3 linked regions of the Homo sapiens genome follow. The protein of the gene in region 2 purifies or fractionates together with the protein of the main gene of each other region. This does not show direct contact. Each region holds a gene or a part of one and is shown on either strand. Other genes may lie near its edges.

Region 1 (7,110 bases), on a different chromosome or scaffold from region 2:
GATGTGGTTGTGTTCTTTTCCTGGAAAAAAGTGAAAAAAAAATTGTGATATATGTATTTCTTAAATTATAAGCATATTTATTCAAAATTATAGGAGCATGACTCCCTTTCCTTGCCTTAGACTTCCATCAAATCCATAAAGTGATCATCTGAACATCAGTGACTAGAAGATAGCCAATCAGCTGTTCTAACACCTGCCCTTATTGCCAAAGCCCCACCAGCTCCACTTCACAATCCTGTCCCCACTTAAGTTGTATCAATGGGAAAAGAGCCCTTTTGGCAAATCTGAGGAAGCAGTTTGAAGTCAGACGAAGCCATTTGAAAGAAATTATGATCTTAGCCTTTTATGAATCAAACTGATTTTTCTCATGTACCTCAAGGTAAAGACATACATCATGCATTCTTTAACTCTCTCCATGGGAAACTTCAGCTGCTTTACCTGCACAAACTTGGTGAGACGAGAATCCATCTGCATTAGTATTTCTTCCCATGCTTCACACATACATGTTAGTGACAAATTTATATACTATTAGCAAAAAAGAAAAATTGAAATGGTAAAAAATATTTAAACCAACTTGCTATCTAAATAATATGTGCTTATGATCAAGTGTCTCAAAGAAATCTAGAATTTACTTTCAATCACTGTTTTATTTTTATTATTTATTTATCGAGACAGAGTCTTGCTCTGTCGTCCAGGCTGGAGTGCAGTGACGCCATCTTGGCTCACTGCAACCTCTGCCTCCCAGGTTCAAGCGATTCTCCTGCCTCAGCCTCCCAAGTAGCTGGTATTATATGCGTGCGTCACCATGCCCAGCTAATTTTTGTATTTTTAGTAGAGACGGGGCTTTACCATGTTGGCCAGGCTGGTCTCGAACTCCAAGCCTCAAGTGATCCACCTGCCTCAGCCTCCCAAAGTGCTGGGATTATAGGTGTGCGCCACTGTGCCCAGCCTCAATCACTCTTTTAACTCAGTTAAGATGGAGAAAAAGACAACAGCTTGGTCATCACTTAACTACGAAACATTCCATTGATTCTTAGAATTTCATAATAAAACATTCTTAAATTTTTATCTGGTGAAACAAATATCTCCAAGCTTTTTATATAAGATATGTCTTATCTACACTAACTGTCAAAATACTGGTTTGGTCAATTATTCAATTTTAAAAAGATACTGATCTCTAGAAACCTTTAATATCAAATAAATTAATGACTGTGGTAGAATGAAAAACATGGCCACAATCTTTTGTAGCCCCTCCAGTCAGATGCAGAGTCCATTTCTTCAGCCCTTGAGTCTCGCTTTGACTAACGGAATGCAGCAGAAATAACACTGTTGACTCCAGGGCCTCAAAAGTCTTTGTACACTTCCACTTGCACCCTCGATGCCCCGTTACCACCACCATGTGGACAAGCCTGTGCTGGCTCGCTGGAGTATGAAGGATGTGGAGTAGAGACAAGGAATCACAGCCAAGGGACACATACCAGCTGGCATGACCAAGTCTAGTCAAGATCAGCTGAACCTTCTCCAGGTCACCCAAACATCTTGGCTAAGCTGAGCCTAAATCACCAACCTACAGAATTGGGAGGTAATTTGGGGTGGGTTTATTATGAACAAATGTAAACTCATGTGAAGACTGTTTTTCCCACAATACTTTATAATGTAAATGGTATTTTATTTATGGGAGTATTTTAAAAGATTTAAACTCTTTTGGAGGTGGAAAATAGGGTGCGGTGAAAGTAGGTTCTCAATTAAATGTCCTTTTCCTGCTTTAATGGACCTTATAAGATCATCTATCAGACTAGATACCTCTACTTCAGAAAGCTTTACAAAACAAAATTTTGAAGCTTTTTATTTACAGAACTTTAGAAGCCGATAATAAATATTCACATAAAACAAGCTCTAAATAAATACCTGTAACAGAGCTGAAATATGAGTAAACTTTCTGGCCATCCGAGTTACTTCAGGTAAGAAAGAGTACAACAGATTAGTTTCAAGCTGTAAAATCAAAAGAGTAAAGTGAGTCATCATCAGATGCACTTGCTGCAAAGTCTGTAATTTAGAGTGTGGGTCAAACTACGTATCAGAAAGACTATGTCAGAATTGTGCCCTCTTTGAGCAGAACGGTTTGGAAACAGCACATAGCCTTAGGATCTCCTAACCTACACATAACCATACACAAATCACTCTCTCTGGGTTATCAACCCCTCCTGTGTAGATAGAATAAATGTAATATAACCTATTTTGAAACAGTATTACAAAGAAATGTTTAAATCACAAATATATGTAAAAACTTAAAGGAAGTATAAGGAATTAAAGGCTACTGATAAATATTGGGAAAATATCTATCAATGGTATATGAATTGTATCTTAATAAATTTGTCATTAAAAATGATCTGTTACCAACTTCACAGTAGTAGTGAATCATTTTATTATAATCCAAATGCAATCCTGGTGATCATAGTTTCACATAACCTTAAGAAGATGAGCAAATATGAACAACCATTACCATAGTGAACAGTAAACCAAGAGTTCTCTGATGCTCTGAATACAAAGAGAATGTTGGAAGACATCACACACATTGCATCTTGCATCTTTTTTGTTCTACTTTTGTTTGAGAGTTCACACATACTTAAGTGGCTGGGATATTTAAGATGAAAATTTTCGATTTCTTGGCAAGGCTATGATCTAAATACTCTATGGGAGCCCAGTTAGCTTCCTTAATCTACAATGCAGACAGCACGCAATAAAGCATTTTCCCAATATTAAGTGATCATTTTACACAAGATGCAATGTGCTAGTTAAGAGCACAGATTATGCAGCCAGATTGTCTAGCATCACTTTCCCATCCTGTGACATCAAGCAAGTTCTGAAGTATTTGTGTGTCCATGTACTTACCTATAAAATGGGGATAATAACAGTATCTGCCTATTATGATGCTGTGAAGATTCAAATCAACTGTTCTGAAGCATTCAGCATATGGCACATATTAAACAATCAATAAATATTAACCTTTGTTATTATCAGGGACAGAGTCCTAAGCAAACACTTGGTACAAAGTCAAACTGGAATAGCAACAAATTAATATGGTCATTAATAGACCACCAAAACACTTTTTATGAAAACTGTATTGGAGCATGGGAAGAATAATATGGTATTCACTATAATAACACTCAGTATATTAGGATGTAGAAATTCCAAGTCGATTTTTTTGCATTATTTTAATGATCATTACAATACAGTGAGATGTGGATAAAAACCTATATAAAACCTGTTAAATACATATTTACTCTCTACCGTTATCAAGTTCCAATACTCACCTGAAAGTATGAAACTTCTGAAGCACCATTGGTAGAGACTTCTGTGACCACTGATAATGATTTCAAATCACTTGATAAACATAATGCAAGACAAGTACCAGCAATCTGTAAAAGAGTCAAACCCCTTAGTATATTTAGTATCACTGCTAGGTTGAAGCTGATTATCATGCAGAAAGCAAAAACTCAGAGCTTTAAAAAGCAGAAACAAATTCCCAGCTCCAGCCACACACATGTAGCAGATGAAGGTAGGTGTCTGCCTGCATGGACCTTTCTAGTTACAAGGCCACAAAAATAACCTGGTTCCCTCACCCCTACCCAAGTCTCAAATCAAGTGCTGCAGAACCAACATATTCCACAGAGCCTACAATATTTTCTACCCCTTTTGCGAGTGTAAGAGTCTGATGAAAAAGCTATGGAGAAGACTGAGACGTAGCAACTATAGTACAGTCAGTACTGGACTTAAGAATGCTTCTGAAGATTTACATTCCAATCACAAATTGAAGCTCTTTTACATCTCACACTAGAAAAACATCAAATCATAATCAAGTGTATCATACTAATCTTTCTGTTAAAGAAAAAGAAAAAAAAACTTGACTAATTCCACAAATAGCTCCCAATCTTTATAGACATATCACAATTATTTTATCTTAGTAAGGAAATTAGTCTCTGAACATTTAAGAATAATTCCAAAAATCGAAACTGAAAAAAAACCTAGTGTTTTATTCTTTTTCCATAAGTACCTAGTATATTCTAAGAGAAATAATTTAGGAAGAGAAAATGTTAAAGAAATCTTACCCCTGTGACTCGAGCAATTTTAAACATTCCATAAGCATAAAGCTCAATAAATCCAGAGCTTCCTCCAAGGACGAGAATATTAAGCCTAATTAAAAACAATGCAACAAGCTGAGAACCAATCAACAACACAGATGATTGCATTGTTAAAGCGAGATATAAATTATTACTGCTTTCATATAATCTACATGCTAAAGCTCCCCTGCAGAGGGAAGTGAGACATCAAATCCACTAACACTCAATATTCAGTCACATCAGGCTCATTCCTTTTTTCAAAGAACACAAATTTCCTCTAGCCTAAAAAAAAATCAGCTTACAGTAAAATAAGAATACATTATTTTAATAACAACTATATTTATACACTCTCAATAACAAAACAATCCTTTTACCAACTAATACAAAGTGCCATCAGTTTTATCATGGTTATGATGCTAAATATATTAAATGGGCTTAAAAAACATGAATACTTAAAATTTTAGAAACTCTAGTACTTATATCCTTTAACTTATTAAAATAAACATATGTACATCATATTATTATTAAAACTTCATAAAACGAAAGGCCACACAATAAAAACAATAATAGATATTAAGGTCTATATATTGTTTGAAGGTATTAATGTCAACGATAAGGCCAGGTGCGGTGGCTCATGCCTGTAATCCCAACACTTTGGGAGGCCAAGGCGGGTGGATCATCTGAGGTTGGGAGTCTGAGACCAGCCTGGCCAACATGGTGAAACCCCGTCTCTACTAAAAATACAAAAATTAGGCCAGGCGCGGTGGCTCACGCCTGTAATCCCAGCGCTTTTGGAGGCTAAGGCGGGTGGATCACGAGGTCAAGAGATCGAGACCATCCTGGCCAACATGGTGAAACCCCGTCCCTACTAAAAATAAAAAAATTAGACAGGCCTGGTGGCGGGTGCCTGTAGTCCCAGCTACTCGGGAGGCTGAGGCAGAAGAATCACTTGAACCAGGAAGGCGGAGGTTGCAGTGAGCCGAGATAACGCCACTGTACTCCAGCCTGGCAACAGAGCGAGACTCCGTCTCAAAAAAAAAAAAAAAAAATTAGCTGGGTGTGGTGGCGCGTGCCTGTAGTCCCAGCTACTCGGAGGAGGCTGAGACAGGAGAATCGCTTGTGCCCAGGAAGTAGAGGTTGTAGTGAGCCAATATCACGACACTGCACTCCAGCCTGGGTGACAGAGACTCCATCTCAAAAAGAAAACAAAAACAAAAAACAATGAAATAAAATGGCAAATAAAGGATTTGCTCTTAAAGCTTCTGAAAACTGCCTCAAATATGAAATAACTTTAAGAAATTAGACTTATTTATCTGTAAGATTTACCTGACGTCTCCCAAGAGCTTAATAATTTCATCAGAATTTTCTTCACTAAAATATAGAAGTAAATTGGGTCATCTTTCAATTCTGTCTTCCAAATAATAGCAGATTATCTTACTTGAAAACAAGAAAAGGCGTATCTTACCTAAATATTTTTGAGGTGTTGCTATAGCTAGAAGGAAACAGAGATTAAGGTAAAAAATACTCTTAGTAAAAATACATATTTTAAAACGCATGAGAAAATTGTCACAGTGTTAAAAGCAGAAGAAAGAGAAATCTGCAAGATTAATTTCAAAGAAACCAGTGATACATACTTTTTTGGCAGTGTAGGTAGTTTAGGTAAGAGAAGATTTGATTCATCCTCAGCATTATAAAATGATGTGAGAACACTAAAAAGGAAAAAATAAAAGCATTATAAAAACACCAAAGATTTTACTTCTCTTGCCATTAAAAATGCTAATTTTTAAAAAAGATACCCAGTTTTACAACATTATCAAGTAAATAGATGACACAAATACTATACAGTTGTAGTCAGTTTAACAGTCCCAAATAGGAAATTGAAAAGTAGGAATTTCTGTTATTTTAGGGGAAAAAAAACATCAGCCTGCACACGTTACATTTAGAGAAATGATATTAATAAACACTTTTCTTAGCATATGAAATGCATTCATATGTACTCAGATACTGAGAATTTATGATTTCTTAACTCTCATTTAAGAACTCACACCAAACATATGACTACTAAGAGTAGCACTATCTTTTATTTATGAGACAGGGTCTCACCCAGGCCGGAGTGCAGTGGTGTGATCATGGTTCACTGCAGCCTTCACCTTCTGAGCTAAAGCCATCATCCTGCCCCAGCCTCCTGAGTAGCTGGGACTACAGGTGCAAGCCACCACACCCAGCTAATATATACATTTTTTTTTTTAGAGATGGGGGTCTCACTATGTTGCCCAGACTGGTCTGAAACTCCTTCCTCCTGCCTCAGCCTCCCAAAGTGCTAGGATTATAGGCATGAACCACTATGCATGGCCTACTATGTGATTTAGTTATTGGTTCTATGACTTATACACACTTGTGGATTTGATAATCCAACAGGTATTTGAGACTACACCATGCCTTTTGAAATAGTCTTATTTACCCCCTTTTCCTTCTCAATTCTAACTCCAAATAAGGTTGGAAATAAATGAGTAAGCAAGTAAAAAAGTGGTGATTTAGCAAGTATTTTTTCCTACTTTAATAAAAAGGAGCTGTCTTGAGAGACCCTGGAATCGCCACATAACACTTCTAAACTGTTAGTAGAAAGTATGTTGGGAATACACACAGCAGATAACCGGGCTGGAATAGGAATTACATGATATGCTCTGACCCTCTAACATTCTACATATTCACATAACGATTTGTAATCCTTCATTATCTGATGATGGATTTATCACTCTGGTTTATCTACAGTGAATTTCAAACCCCAGGTCAAACCCTTGTCATCCAATTCTTTCAGGCTTCCCTTAGGAAAGCTGGCAATTAATATTCAGGATTTACAAATTCATTTGATATTACCTTAGTATAACTTAATTAGAAAGGAAAAGTTAATGGTAAGAAAATTAGCATATTTCCCCAAAAAAGAAAAACAATTTTTGTTTTCAGTATTAGCCAAACCCACTGATTCCTC
Region 2 (6,286 bases):
AAACTCCAGCTGGGAAGACCTCTAGCCCCACCTGTTTTGCAAACGGGAAAAGAGCCCCAGGAGTGGCTCCCCCACGGTTGAGAAGTTAACTCAGCCCCGGCTTCACAAACCCCACGTGCAGTATGGCAGTTAGTATTTTTGGGCACCACCTTTCGGGTGTACCTGTCTCCTATACACCTTGTGCCAATAGGCACAAGGCAAGTCTCTTGCCCAGAACCAGTGGAAAGCAAATGAATTCGTTAGCCTTTACAAAAAACACCTTTTTTTTTCAGACAGTCTCACTCTGCTGCCCAGGCTGGAGTGCAGCGGTGCAATCTCAGCTCACTGCAACCTCTGCCTCCCGGGTTCAAGTGATTCTCCTGCCTCAGCCTCACGAGTAGCTGGGATTACAGGCGTGTGCCACCATGCCAGGCTAATTTTTGTATTTTTAGTAGAGATGGGGTGTCACCATGTTGGCCAGGCTGATCTCGAACTCCTGAGCTCAGGTGATCTGCCTACCTTGGTCTCCCAAAGTGCTGGGATTACAGCCATGCCTGGCCAAAAAATATTTCTCTTCCTGAATTAAAATGCAAATTTTACCAATCAAGAAACTGACATAAGAACAGTTTTATTTTAATCACTTAAGACTTGTGCATTATTCAATTTTGAGACTGAAATACTTGTTTCCCTTTCAACTGATTAGGAAATGGTCTGAGCTGGCAGAAGTTAATCCTCACATTATTCAGCTAATGAGAGACAGAATCCTAAAACCTGATTCCAACTTCCGCCTGTACCTCACAATGCAAGACAAAGCCTTTCATTTTAATGTTGTACACATATAAGGACCATATAATCTGGATTAACTTTAGGTAACAATAACTTAAAAGATAGGAAAATGTATCATATTACAGAGATTTAAAAATTGTCTATACAATAAATGATGAAGAAAACTAACAATAAACAGGACGACGTTCAAATACTGAATACAATTAACAAATGGGGCCAAAAGATCAACATTTATCTCTCATCATCTTTCATGCAATGTCTCAGCTTTCTTCTCCCAAACATAAAGGCAGATTAATTCAAAGTAGCCCTATTAAGAATATTTGTTTATCACGCCTGCAATCCCAGCACTTTGGGAGGCCGAGGTGGGTGGATCACCTGAGGTCAGGAGTTCAAGACCAGCCTGACCAATATGGTGAAACTCCATCTCTACTAAAAATACAAAAATTAGCCAGGTGTGGTAGCACATACCTGCAGTCCCAGCTACTAGGGAGGCTGAGACAGGAGAATTGCTTGAACCCAGGAGATGGAGGTTACAGTGAGCCAAAATCGCGCCACTGCACTCCAGCCTGGGCAACAGAGCGAGACTCCATCTCAAAAAAAAAAAAAAAAATTATGTTTCATTCTGAAATTAATATTTGAATGGAAACTGTATTAACAGCTCATGGTTTCCTACTAAAGTTTAAGATCCCCCTAGACAATGCTCAGATTTAGACAATGCCAGAATAAGACACTGGGTGACTGAAGTATGAACTACAGGTAAAATCTAGAAGAACATAGATAATAAAAAATTTCTGATTTAACAGACATAGTAAATATAAATGAATTAACTCACACAACCTACTTACACCAAACAAAACTAGAATGAACAACTTGTAGGAACCACCTCTAGTTGATTTCACCACTTAACAGGGGCAAGATCTTAGGTGGATCATTTTGTTTAAGGATGACTTGAAATTTTACAATACTACCTTAGCTCCCACATATGAAAACTCTTCAAGAATTTTTTCTCATCAACCAGACGTTGAGGAAAATACAGTGAGAAATAAAATGAAACGGCTTCTCACACATATGAAGGCCCAGATCACCCCTAAATTTCTAGTGATTTAACTTAAGAAGCTCCTTGCCCTGAGAGATTCCTTTATCCCACAACACTCTACTCAGAGGGGGCAGAGAATCCCAGGACACTACACAAGCCACAGGATAAAAACACAACCTGTCTTCTATCTGGCACCAACTGACTAATATCTAGGTATACACAGGACTGACTTTAAAGTTGGTTAACAAATATTTTAATTCATTAAAATAAAACTTAAAAATTACATGCTTAGTCTACACAAGTTTAACTTACTTTAGTCACTTAGTGAATTGTGAATTGGCTCCCATTAGTGGTCAGGAGAATGTATTTGGTGTAGAAACCAAATAAATCAAGCTATTATCGCCTTGTGAGTACAAACAATGTTTATTTGTTTGTAAAGTGCCAGGTTTATATTTAAGTAAACATTAAAATCTGCGTTGAAGCAGTGAGGCTGCATCTTTTAACTGGCTGTGCTGGTTAAAGGACTGTTTAATCCCGCTGTGCTAAGCTCACTAAAGGGTCACCCCTCACTTTAAAGCCAAGACTGCCATTGTCACTGCTATGGTAAGTCACAGCCAGCCAGGCCTTCTGGCAAAAGGTGATACTACCAGCACTATAAACAGACAGGACTGGTTGTGAGGTAGCTACACAGTTTTAAAGATGCTGTTAATGAACATTACGGACAATTCATGGTGTGGCTAGTTGGTAACACTTCAGCTGATTTTTCTTATGAGATGGAAAAAAAAAATCAGCCAAGTAAGGGCACATCTTCAGTTCATTTAGAAGTCAGCATCCAAGGTAAAAGAATTCTCTGTTGGACTTGACATCACTCCCATCCTCTGATACTCGCCTACTCTCTTCTCAAAGAAGTTAGTCTTTCCTTCCAGTGAAATATTCTCCATAAAGTCAAATGGGTTCTCTACTCTGAAAACCTGAAAAGGTTCACATCAAGATATAAATACAGAGCACCAGCTTCAAAACAAGCAAAAGGCTATGTAAACAATACTTTACCTTGCTAAAACCCAGTTCCAGCATAAGTCTGTCTGCCACAAACTCAATGTATTGCTTCATTAGAGTGCAATTCATCCCAATGAGCTTCACAGGCAAGGCCTCAGTGAGGAACTCCTAGGAACCAAAATACAGCTTCTGAATACAACTAAAGCACAGGCATTTTCTAGCAAGCTTGAGTGACCCATTTCATCACCCACTTTACCTGTTCTATCCGAACAGCATTGATAATTATTTCTCTTACTCTCTCCTCCGATGGTTTGTGTACCAGGTGTTTGAACATCAGGCAAGCAAAATCACAGTGTAAACCCTAGAAAAAAAAGTTCAAGATCACTAAAGCCAGAAGACTTCTGTCATTAACATGGAATATGAAATTACTTTGTCCTTTTCTGCATTCTCCTTATCCAACATGCTCAGCCATACTGAGAGCACTTGAACTCTCAAAGGGAAGATGACTTCAACTACTGACTTCTCTGCTGATGTCACTACCAAGGCAAGCTCAGTCCCATTCAAGACCCTCAAAGTTGCCACCTAGATGAAGACAGGCAAGGTGTATTTCTTGCTCTGCTGTGTGTTGGCAAAGGAGGAGTCAGAGCTTCACTCAGTGATCTTTCTACAGCCATGAGTGCTAATTTTGCCACTACTCCCAGCAGGAAAGGCAAAGCTCAGTAATAAGGCTAGTTTTTAGATGCTCAGGAAATTTGTATGCAATTTCAAGTAAATCAAGTTTGCAAGTTACTGCATTAAACATCAAGCTTCACAGCTTATCTCCCAATCCAGTAAGGAAGGCCCTCCTACAAGGTAACCATATTTGATTTGCCCACTGGGCTCCAAGTAAGATGGAGTTCATGCTCCTGGCTTTTCAAATGTGACTTAATCAAAGACATACACTAGACCAAAATGTATACTCATTTCATTGAAATGCTTATTAATATTGAAGTAGAGGGGCAATTTCTAGATCAAACAGGAGAAACATAATGGCTACTATGAACATTCTTTTTCGGGGGGACTGTCACCCAGGCTGGAGTGCAGTGGTGTGATCTTGACTCACTGCAACCTCCACCTCCCAGGTTCAGGCGATTCTCCTACCTCAGCCTCTCAAGTAGCTGGGACAATAGGCACGTCCACCATACCCGGCTAATTTTTTGTATTTTTAGTAGAGATGGGGTTTCACCGTGTTAGCCAGGATGGTCTCAATCTCCTGACCTCATGATCCACCCGCCTCGGCCTACCAAAGTGCTGGGATTACAGGCATGAGCCACCGCTCCTGGCTCTACTATGAACATTTTTACGGAAAAAGGGATAACATATTAATACCAGGCAAAAATAATAAAACATCCCTTAAAATCCCAATCCCATCAATAACTTGTAGTTTTGGCTGGGCATGGTGGCTCATGCCTATAATCCCAGCACTCTGGGAGGCCGAGGCGGGTGGATCACCTGATCACCTGAGGTCAGGAGTTCAACCCCAGTCTGGCAAACATGGTGAAACCCCGTCTGTATAAAAAGACGAAAATTAGCTGGGCATGGTGGCAGGCACCTACAATCCCAGCTACTTGGGAGGCTGAGGCGGGAGAATCACTTGAACCTAGGAGGCAGAGGTTGCAGTGAGCCAAGATCACGCCATTGCACTCCAGCCTGGAACGACAGAGCAAGATTCCGTCACCTCAAAAAACAAAGAACTTGTAGTTTTATGCATTCAAAGCCTATAGGGGAATACATATGTACAAATGTATTACAATATATTGAGAATGCAAGTAAAACAGTTTCAGTAAATGAAAGTATTTCCTTCTTTTGTCAAGTATGTGTATGGTTGAACTCACACATTAAATGTGGATATATGCCATCTAGCATCTCAGGTCCCCGTCAGTGAACACAAGAGCATGCCCGAGTTGTGTTTGGGGTTTAGGTCACCCTATTATTTGACTTAGACTCACCTCATCTCTGCTAATAAGTTCATTAGAAAATGTGAGGCCAGGCATCAGTCCTCGTTTCTTGAGCCAGAATATCGACGCAAAAGAACCGGAAAAGAAAATGCCTTCCACTGCAGCAAAGGCTACAACACGTTCACCTATTTAGGAGTTAACACCAACATGATTCTAGTGAGTTGGTATTCAAGGGCCAAAAATCCAGTAACATTACTTGGAAAATGAAGCTCAGGTTTAAGTAGGGGCAAGGGTCTCCTTACCATAGGTAGCCTCTTTGTCCCCAATCCAGCGCAAGGCCCAGTCTGCCTTCTTCTTGACACAAGGCATCGTTTCAATGGCATTGAAGAGAAATTCCCTAGTAGGCACATACGGTATCAGCAATTGAAGCATTACAGTAAAAGACCTCCGATTACCAACTGCTAGATAAGAGCTCTGGGACAAAGGCCAAATTCAAGTATTTGCCAATCCTCTTCCTAAAGGAAGAACTCACACCGAAATGTTTTATTTTTACTGGTCAGTTTTTCCCTCCAGTGTTCTTTTAAAAACCTCAACACTTGATTTACATTAATACAAGTTTGGGTATTCTGTAGTTCATATTGAGCTTCAGGGTCTACAGACAGTAAAACATAGTCCAGTACAGCAGGGACATTTGTTGCCTTTAAAATTATTTCAAGTCCAGATCATTGTTCAATTTGAAGAATCATAGAATTTAAATTTGAAGAACCATAAAATCCTAACTGCTGTGCTATTATCAGACTATGATTAGGTGCATTATTTGGCCTCAGTTGCCACACCTATATCATAAAATAATTAAACCAATAAACTAAGATTGCTTCCTACTAGGACTCTGTGCTACACTGTCGATCCCAGGTCAGGAAAGCAAATCCATGGGTACTACAGTTAACTGGATCTCCCTTACCACCCTCCTCTGCCTCCCTTTATTCTGGTGCCCACCTTGAGAGGCTACTCATTTCCCAGACTGTTCCTACCCAGATGACTTTGTGTTCTGAAGCCAAGGGCACCAGACATTGGGCAGCTTTTTTTTTTTTTTTTTTTTTTTTTTTTTTAAAGAGATGAGGGTCTCACTCTGTTGCCCAGGCTAGAGTGCAGCGAGATGATCACAGCTCACGGTAAAACCAAACTCCAGGGCTCAAGCCATCCTTCTGCCTCAGCCTGCCAAGTAGCTGGGACTACTAGCTCAGACTACCATGCCCAGCTGTCGTTCATTCTTTCCATCTCACTGTCCCTCTCTCTGAGACCTGGGTCTGCCTCTCCCTTGTTTTTGAGGCTTCCCCAGCAGACCTTCCTGTTCCCCTTCTGGGCATTTGCCCCCGATCGTACCCCTAATCTTTGCCTTCTTTTCTCAATTTCCACCTATAAACATGTTCAAATCTCTTTACTCCCAATGTTTCCTCAGTCCTTTCAAGTTACCACTTTTCCTCTTCATGTACTTCAAAGTCTACAACGGCTACTTTAGGTTGCAGCTTCACCACTTCCACTCCATACAAGG
Region 3 (7,225 bases), on a different chromosome or scaffold from region 2:
CATAAAGTAGGTGCTCAATAATTTTTAAATGAGTAAGTGAAAGGACTTTTTATGAAGTGTTACATACCTCATAAATGATAACTATTATTCCCAAGACAGGGTTTCCCCTGGGCTCCCACAGTCCCCTGATCACACGGTTGTAATTGTGTTTCCTCCAAGAAAGGGGTTCCTGGAGGCCTAGGAGAGAGGGACCATCATCTGGGAACCTGAGTGTTCTCAGGACAACCTGCCTAGGGCAGAGGAGTAAGAACCAAATGGGGGAGAGACACGAGGTGGCAGGAGGAGGAGGGTATGGGGAGGCACTTAGTCCTGTGTCTTCCCCACCCAGTGCAGTCCCTGGAAGAAGAATGCCTGCTGCACAGCCAGCACCAGCCAGGAGCTGCACAAGGACACCTCCCGCCTGTACAACTTTAACTGGGACCACTGCGGCAAGATGGAGCCCGCCTGCAAGCGCCACTTCATCCAGGACACCTGTCTCTATGAGTGCTCACCCAACCTGGGGCCCTGGATCCAGCAGGTAGGGTGTCTCCCCCCCACCCACCCCAGCAGACTGCCATCCCCCTCAGTCACTTCAAGGCGATGGCTGCCAGCATCCCTGGCTGAGAGGAGCCCTGCCTCCCCACCTCCCACCCAGGTGAATCAGAGCTGGCGCAAAGAACGCTTCCTGGATGTGCCCTTATGCAAAGAGGACTGTCAGCGCTGGTGGGAGGATTGTCACACCTCCCACACGTGCAAGAGCAACTGGCACAGAGGATGGGACTGGACCTCAGGTGAGGGTGATTGAGTTGGGGTTAGGAAAAAGGAGATTGAGGTAGGGTTTGGAAAATCTTCAAGGATTTGGGGTGGGGTGAAGATTTCTGGGGGTGGCCAGAAATGAGCTTTGGGCCCAGGGGCTGAAAGTCTGTGTCCACCATGCCTCTCCCTGCAGGAGTTAACAAGTGCCCAGCTGGGGCTCTCTGCCGCACCTTTGAGTCCTACTTCCCCACTCCAGCTGCCCTTTGTGAAGGCCTCTGGAGTCACTCATACAAGGTCAGCAACTACAGCCGAGGGAGCGGCCGCTGCATCCAGATGTGGTTTGATTCAGCCCAGGGCAACCCCAACGAGGAAGTGGCGAGGTTCTATGCTGCAGCCATGCATGTGAATGCTGGTGAGATGCTTCATGGGACTGGGGGTCTCCTGCTCAGTCTGGCCCTGATGCTGCAACTCTGGCTCCTTGGCTGAGTTCAGTCCTCCCAGACTACCTGCCCTCAGCTTGGATAACCAGGCTGGGCTCAGCTCAGCTCCCACAAATGACAGCCCCTTAAGCATGCTTCTATTAGTCACCTAACCCTCTGTCACCCAGTCTGTTGCTGCTCCATGGTGGGGCCAAGAGTCACTTCTAATAAACAGACTGTTTTCTAATAATTCCATGTCTGTGGAATTGTTTTGGTTGTGAGTTTGTGGGTGGGTGGGAGACAGATTCTACGGCTTCTGGATTCCTTCAAATTAGAGCAACTAGACCTGTGTTTGAATCCCAGCTCTGCTACTTTGTGAAAATGAAACAGTTGCTTCACTGCTCTAAACCTTTGTTTCCTTCTGGATAAAAAGAGGATAATAGTCCTGCCCTCAGGCTTGTGAAATATACAGGAGCTGTTGCCTAGAAAGCCCGTGAGCCCAGTGTCTGCACATTAATAGTCTTCAGGGATCCTGTTGTTCCTGTTGCCCCAAGTGGGAGCCAGGTCCTGAGCTTATTTGTCTTGGTCTCCAAACAGCCTCCTGGTCCTCCAGCCCTTGTGCCTGGCTCTGTGCTCGGCTCTGTAACAGGAAAGCTGGGAATGGGAGTCCAGGAAAGGATTCAGATTGCCAGTGGGATGAAAAAAATTCACAGTGGGATGAAAAAAACGTGATGCACATTGAAGGAGCAGAGTTGGGGCCTGGGACTCTCAGAGGAAAAACAGAGCCAATTGGAGAGGGCAGTGTAGGGGGTTTCTGGAGTGGAATACTCAAGAGCCTGGAACTGGTTCAGCGCTTTGGTGTCCTGGAGGTGTGGCTGGAAGAGTTAGAAACCCTTAAGGGCTTCCCGGGGTCAGGAGCCTCTGGCACCTTTGTCTCCTCCTGGGATTGGCAGATATGCCTATCTTGAGGGGGTTGCTCTGTCTTTGCAAAGCCCTCGGGAGCTGGGCCTAAGTTATCTCTGGGTCTCCCAACACCCCTTTCCCTTTGGATAAGTCTTTGTTTGCACACTCCTACTACAACTGTCCCCAGAGAGGCCCAGGTAAGTCTCTGAGAACACCCTGCAGGTAGGTGGCCCAGCTAGGACTAGAACCCAGGTGTGCAGACTCCCAGTCCAGGTCTCTCCCCCACTACCAAGGATTCCCCTCACATCAGGCTCATCTTTTCTTATACTAAAAGGTGGCTGATGAGAACGGTGGCACAGATTGTAGGATGAGTTATTGGGTTCTGGAGGCACTGTTGGGTGGGTGGGTGGATCTCTTAGTTATTATATTTATCTAGTGTGGAAGGCCCCACAGAGCCCCTTCCACGTCCCAGGCTCTGCTCCAGCTGGGTTAAGTCAATGCATATTTGAAATAGAGGAAGGAGCTCGAGGGACTGACCCGGGCTCCGTCAACAGGTTCAACGTAGCAAAGTGAAAGTTCTCTCCCAGGTTAAAGGGATTCTCCCACGGCGGCCCAGGAGATGGTGGCGGCGGGCGCCCGGCTGGAGGCCTGCGCCTTTAAGGAGCCAGGGGGCGGAGGGGCGGGGCAGGAAGACGACTCCCCGGAGACGCCGCCACCGGCTAGGTCTTTTTTTGGGAGGGGGCGGGCCAGACCCTTTTATGGGCTCCGCCCCCTTTGCGGCTGCCGCGTCCCCCTTCCGCCCTCGGCTGGAGGGGAGGAAGCTAGGGGGGCGTTGCAGCGGACCCCGTCTGGGAGCTCCCCGCTGGGCGTCCGGCCCGCGGAGGCGCGAGTTTGCTGACTCGGAGGGAGCCGCTGGGGCGGGGGCGAGTGCTAATAATACCCGTTCGTTCCGCAGCCGCGCTTTACAGTTTACACAGCTGTCACCTTCGTTTCTCCTTAATTAATAATAAAAATAGCCGCCGTTCGGGAGCGCGGGCTGGGCGCCAGGCCCGGTGCCGAGCGCGGTACGAGCTCGGCCCCCAGAGCCGGCCCTCGCCACAGGATCCCCATTTTCCAGAGCGGGAAGCCGACGCTCAACCCCGCGCCGCGACTTGCCCGAGGTCACCCAGTGGGCCAGCGGCTCCGGGACCGAGGCGCGGGGCGGGGTGAGGCGAGGCGCGGTGCTGCCCCCGGCTCCCCGGGGCGGCGCGGGGCGGGGCGGGCGGCGCGGAGGGCGGGGGCGCGCGCGGATGGCCATCTTAAGTGGCCGCCTGGAGCCCAGGGCCGCTGTCCGGGGAAGGGGGCGCCGGAGCAGCCCGGGAGGTGGGGGTCTGCGTGCGGCGGCCGGGATCCCGGGAGGGAACTTTCTACTAGACGGGCCAGGGATCCTCCTGGCTTCGGACTGCTGAACCCCCTCAAGGCCCGGCCTGCGGGTGTGGGGGGTGGTGCTGGGGAACTTGGCCGAGAGGGGGAAGGGCTCTGCGGGGCTGGGAGGGGCTGCGTGAGAGGCTCGAGAACGTCGCACCTCGTCTGGGCCCCCCGCCAGAGTAAGAATCTTCAGAAGCCTGGTTAGCCAGGGAATCTCCCCGCAGGCTTTGCCGGGGGACGGTTCCCGTGGAGTTGGGGGTTCAGATCTAAGAGGGGGCTGCATTTCGCAGGAGTTGGGGGCCCCGCCCGCTTGGGTGGAGGGAAGAGGATGGGTAGGGGGTGGTCCTGGATCCTTCGCAGGTTTGGGGAACTCGATGCAGCCAAGCTGTAAGGGGGACGAGAGGAAGAGCCATGGAGTGGAATCAGACCTTTATGGGGCTTAGGGGTCATATCATTGGGAGAACTGAGAAGCGCTGAATTCTCCAGGGGGTGCCTGGATCCCGAAGTGTCGGGGCCAGGATGGGGGGACTCGGATTTCGATGGGGATTTGGGGACTGGATCTCCTCGGGTGAATGATGGGGGCAGGATCATTGTGGGGTCTGGGAGGTCCCGGGCCCTTCGGGAAGGTGGGGGCACCGTCCCCGCAGGAGGAGCTGGGGGCAGGGGCGGCCCGGGCTGCGGGCCGAGCGGAGGGGGAGGGGGCGGCAGCCGGCCCTGCGCTCCGCTCCTGCCCCTCCCCCGCCGCCTCTGAACAAACTTTTCTTTCTCTTCAAGTTGAGGCCGGCGCTGCAGGCAGCGGCGGCTGCGCGGTGAACGAGGCGGCCTGCGCGGCGGAGTGCTGAGTCCCGATCCCCGGCTCTGTCCGGCCCACGGATCCTCAAGCCCGGGCCCCGGGCCCGGCCCCAGCCTCAGCCCTGAGCGTCTCGGGGCGGATGGCGCGGGGCGGCGGGGGCGGGCGGTGCTGAGCCCTGCGCGGGCCATGGCCTCGGCCTGCGGGGCGCCGGGCCCGGGGGGCGCCCTGGGCAGCCAGGCCCCCTCCTGGTACCACCGCGACCTGAGCCGGGCGGCCGCGGAGGAGCTGCTGGCCCGGGCGGGCCGCGATGGCAGCTTCCTGGTCCGAGACAGCGAGAGCGTGGCGGGGGCCTTCGCGCTCTGCGTCCTGTGAGTGGGGCGGGGGCTCCTTGCGGGCTGGCGTGGACCGGGAGCGCGGGCACGGCCGGGTGTGGAAAGGGCCCGGGTGAGGGTTTCTGGGGCGGTGGGACGCCAGACCCGCCTCCACCCCCCAGAGTGGGAGCCTTGGCTTTCTCCTGGGTCTGAGGAGGGACGCAGGGGCACTTCCTGCTGTGTGTCTGGGGGCACTTTCAGGAGCCTTGAGGGTAGAGAATATGGGGTTCTGTGGCCCAGTGTGACTGTGATGACGAAAAATTCGGGCATTCCCCGGCAGACCCCTTCAGGCATCCTCCAGGTAGAAGGGAGCAGGGGAGAGGATGTGCATTCCACGTTGTGTGCAGTCCCGTTTGGATAGGGACTGAGTGGTGAGCAGGAGAGGGAGTCGGGGCAGAGGGACTGACGGGGTGTGTGGGGATGCCTGGCAGCTTCCTTAGGGCCCCTTTCGGTGCTTTGGGGTTCTGCCTGGCCGTGTATGGGTGGTGGGGGCGGTGATGGGTGGTGTAGAGAGGAAGGCTTGGGGAAGCAGAGGCTGAGGCTGTATGGGACCTTGCCATTATTTCTGAACCAATGAGTGAGTGTTTGAGCCCTGGCTCTGGGCTTGAGCCCTGGTTACCTGGCTGCCCTAGCCCTGAGCTATGAGTGCTGAGTGAGAGCAGAGCCAGACTTGGTGCTTCTCTGAGTGGGCCAGGTCCTGTGGCTGTGCCTTTCAGCCCAGTGTGGTTGGTAGTGGTGCTGGGGTGAGTTAGCACTCTTGGTTTTGCAGCCTTCTAGCGGCTTTGTACCTCCTGCCCTGCAGTCTGACATTGAGTTGGCTTCTGTGGGCCCAGTGAGTGGGAATCTGTGGGGGCTGCTTTATTTAGATCAGTTATTTAGATCTTTATTTAGATCTTTCTTAGCTCTGTGAACCCCCTCCCAAACTCCTGTCCCACTGTACCTTCCTTACCCCTTTGTTCTCCTGACATCTTTGGTCGGGGCGCACATTAGCCTAGACCAGGGGAGACCTTTTTTTTTTTTTTTTTTTTTGAGAAAGAGTCTCGCTCTGTTGCCCAGGCTGGAGTGCAGTAGTGCAATCTCGGCTCACTGCAACCTCCGCCTCCTGGATTCAAGTGATTCTTCTGCCTCTGCCTCGCCAGTAGCTGGGATTACAGGCGCTCGCCACCAAGCCCAGCTAATTTTTGTATTTTTAGTAGAGATGGGGTTTCACCATATTGGCCAGGCTGGTCTTGAACTCCTGACCTCAAGTGATCCACCTGCCCCGGCCTCTCAAAGTGCTAGGATTACAGGTGGAGCCACCTCGCCCAGCTGGGGAGACATTTTTAATTGTCACAACTGGGATGGTGCTATTGACATCTAGTGGGTAGAAGCCGGGGATACTGCTAAACATTCTACAGTGCACAAGAGAGTCCCCCACAACAAAGAACTGTGCAATCCAAAATGTCAGTGGTATGGAGGTTGAAAAACTCTAGCCTAGGCAATTGACCCAACAAGGAAGGGGCCCTATAAGTCTTAGCTTAGGCCTCAAGTCTGAGGCCCAGTAGGGGGAGACTAAGGAGGGACAGACTAGGCAGATGAATATCCCCAAGTCCTGCTTCCCAGCCCCCTCTGAGGCATACCCCCTAATTAGGCTGGGGAGGGAGGCAGGTGCTGGGTCAGCTGTTGAGTGGGAGGGGGACAGCTGGGGCCTGTGTCTGGGTGAGGAACATTATTGTCCCAGGAGGGGGAGAATCCTGGCCTCATTGCCAAGGGAGGCTGTGAATGGGGTGAGGGGTCTGTCTGTGAGTGGGGGCTTCAGGTTTGCCAGCTGACTCTGGCTCTTCCCCGCATCTCAAGAGCCTGGGGGTAAGGATCAGACGTGGGCGATCAGACGTGGGCAATATCTTAGATTTGCCAAATACACACATACTTGCTTACCTGTATACATTCCGGGTGTTCATGGATAACATGCAAGACACGCCCCTGCCCCAGCAGGCACAGGCAATCTGACCAGCAAGCTAGGATACTGGCCCTGGCTTCTGCCATGGTTTAAAATCCCAACTCCACCTTTTACTTACTCTGTGGCCTTAGGAAAATCACTTTTATTCTTTGAGCCTGTTTCCTCAGCTGGAGAATGGGGATAATAATATCTGTTTAGAAGTGTGAGAATTAAGTAAGATTTATAGGACACTGGGTACCCAGCGTGTCACAGATAGGATTCAGTTAATGGTATGCTATTGTAATAAACACAGATAGTGTTTGTAATAGTCTACAAAGGAACACCTGGTGACAGACACTCACCCAGCATAAGCAGCCAGGAGAGTCACCTAGGGTGACTCCTGGGTGACTCCTTGGGGAAGCATGCCCTGAGGTGCGGAGGCAGAGGATCTTCCATCCCCCGCTGATTGTGCACCTGGCTCAGCTGCCACCTGCTCAACTGCGGCTCCTGTCTGTCAGCACCCCTCTTGCCCCTCCTTGGCTTGGGGCTCCTAGAGGCCCAGGTCTCCCATGGGGGCCCTCTTTGGTGGGAAGGCCTAGGGTGATGCCCCCACACTCCTCGGCACAAGTGCCCTAGACATACCCGACTCCAGCAGAGCCAGAGAGCAGCATAAACACAG

Evidence for each region.
Region 1: the proteins of RRM2 (region 2) and ANAPC4 purify together in Homo sapiens (affinity purification with mass spectrometry; 3 studies listed by BioGRID and IntAct, with this or other methods). This does not show direct contact.
Region 3: the proteins of RRM2 (region 2) and INPPL1 purify together in Homo sapiens (affinity purification with mass spectrometry; 3 studies listed by BioGRID and IntAct, with this or other methods). This does not show direct contact.

The regions. Positions count from the first base shown.
Region 1 is NC_000004.12:25,387,220-25,394,329, reverse strand, and holds part of ANAPC4 (anaphase-promoting complex subunit 4), read right to left. Parts: intron 5,831-7,110; coding exon 5,756-5,830; intron 5,614-5,755; coding exon 5,587-5,613; intron 5,493-5,586; coding exon 5,448-5,492; intron 4,195-5,447; coding exon 4,110-4,194; intron 3,420-4,109; coding exon 3,315-3,419; intron 1,993-3,314; coding exon 1,909-1,992; intron 526-1,908; coding exon 439-525; intron 21-438; coding exon 1-20. UniProt on the Homo sapiens protein: Component of the anaphase promoting complex/cyclosome (APC/C), a cell cycle-regulated E3 ubiquitin ligase that controls progression through mitosis and the G1 phase of the cell cycle.
Region 2 is NC_000002.12:10,125,720-10,132,005, reverse strand, and holds the end of RRM2 (ribonucleoside-diphosphate reductase subunit M2), read right to left. Parts: intron 5,132-6,286; coding exon 5,037-5,131; intron 4,920-5,036; coding exon 4,786-4,919; intron 3,159-4,785; coding exon 3,054-3,158; intron 2,966-3,053; coding exon 2,852-2,965; intron 2,773-2,851; coding exon 2,620-2,772; 3' UTR 592-2,619; downstream 1-591. UniProt on the Homo sapiens protein: Provides the precursors necessary for DNA synthesis. Catalyzes the biosynthesis of deoxyribonucleotides from the corresponding ribonucleotides. Inhibits Wnt signaling.
Region 3 is NC_000011.10:72,220,542-72,227,766, forward strand, and holds the start of INPPL1 (phosphatidylinositol 3,4,5-trisphosphate 5-phosphatase 2), read left to right. Parts: upstream 1-4,225; 5' UTR 4,226-4,443; coding exon 4,444-4,625; intron 4,626-7,225. Other genes in the region: FOLR2 (folate receptor beta), read left to right, coding at 329-517, 635-770, 929-1,221. UniProt on the Homo sapiens protein: Phosphatidylinositol (PtdIns) phosphatase that specifically hydrolyzes the 5-phosphate of phosphatidylinositol-3,4,5-trisphosphate (PtdIns(3,4,5)P3) to produce PtdIns(3,4)P2, thereby negatively regulating the PI3K (phosphoinositide 3-kinase) pathways.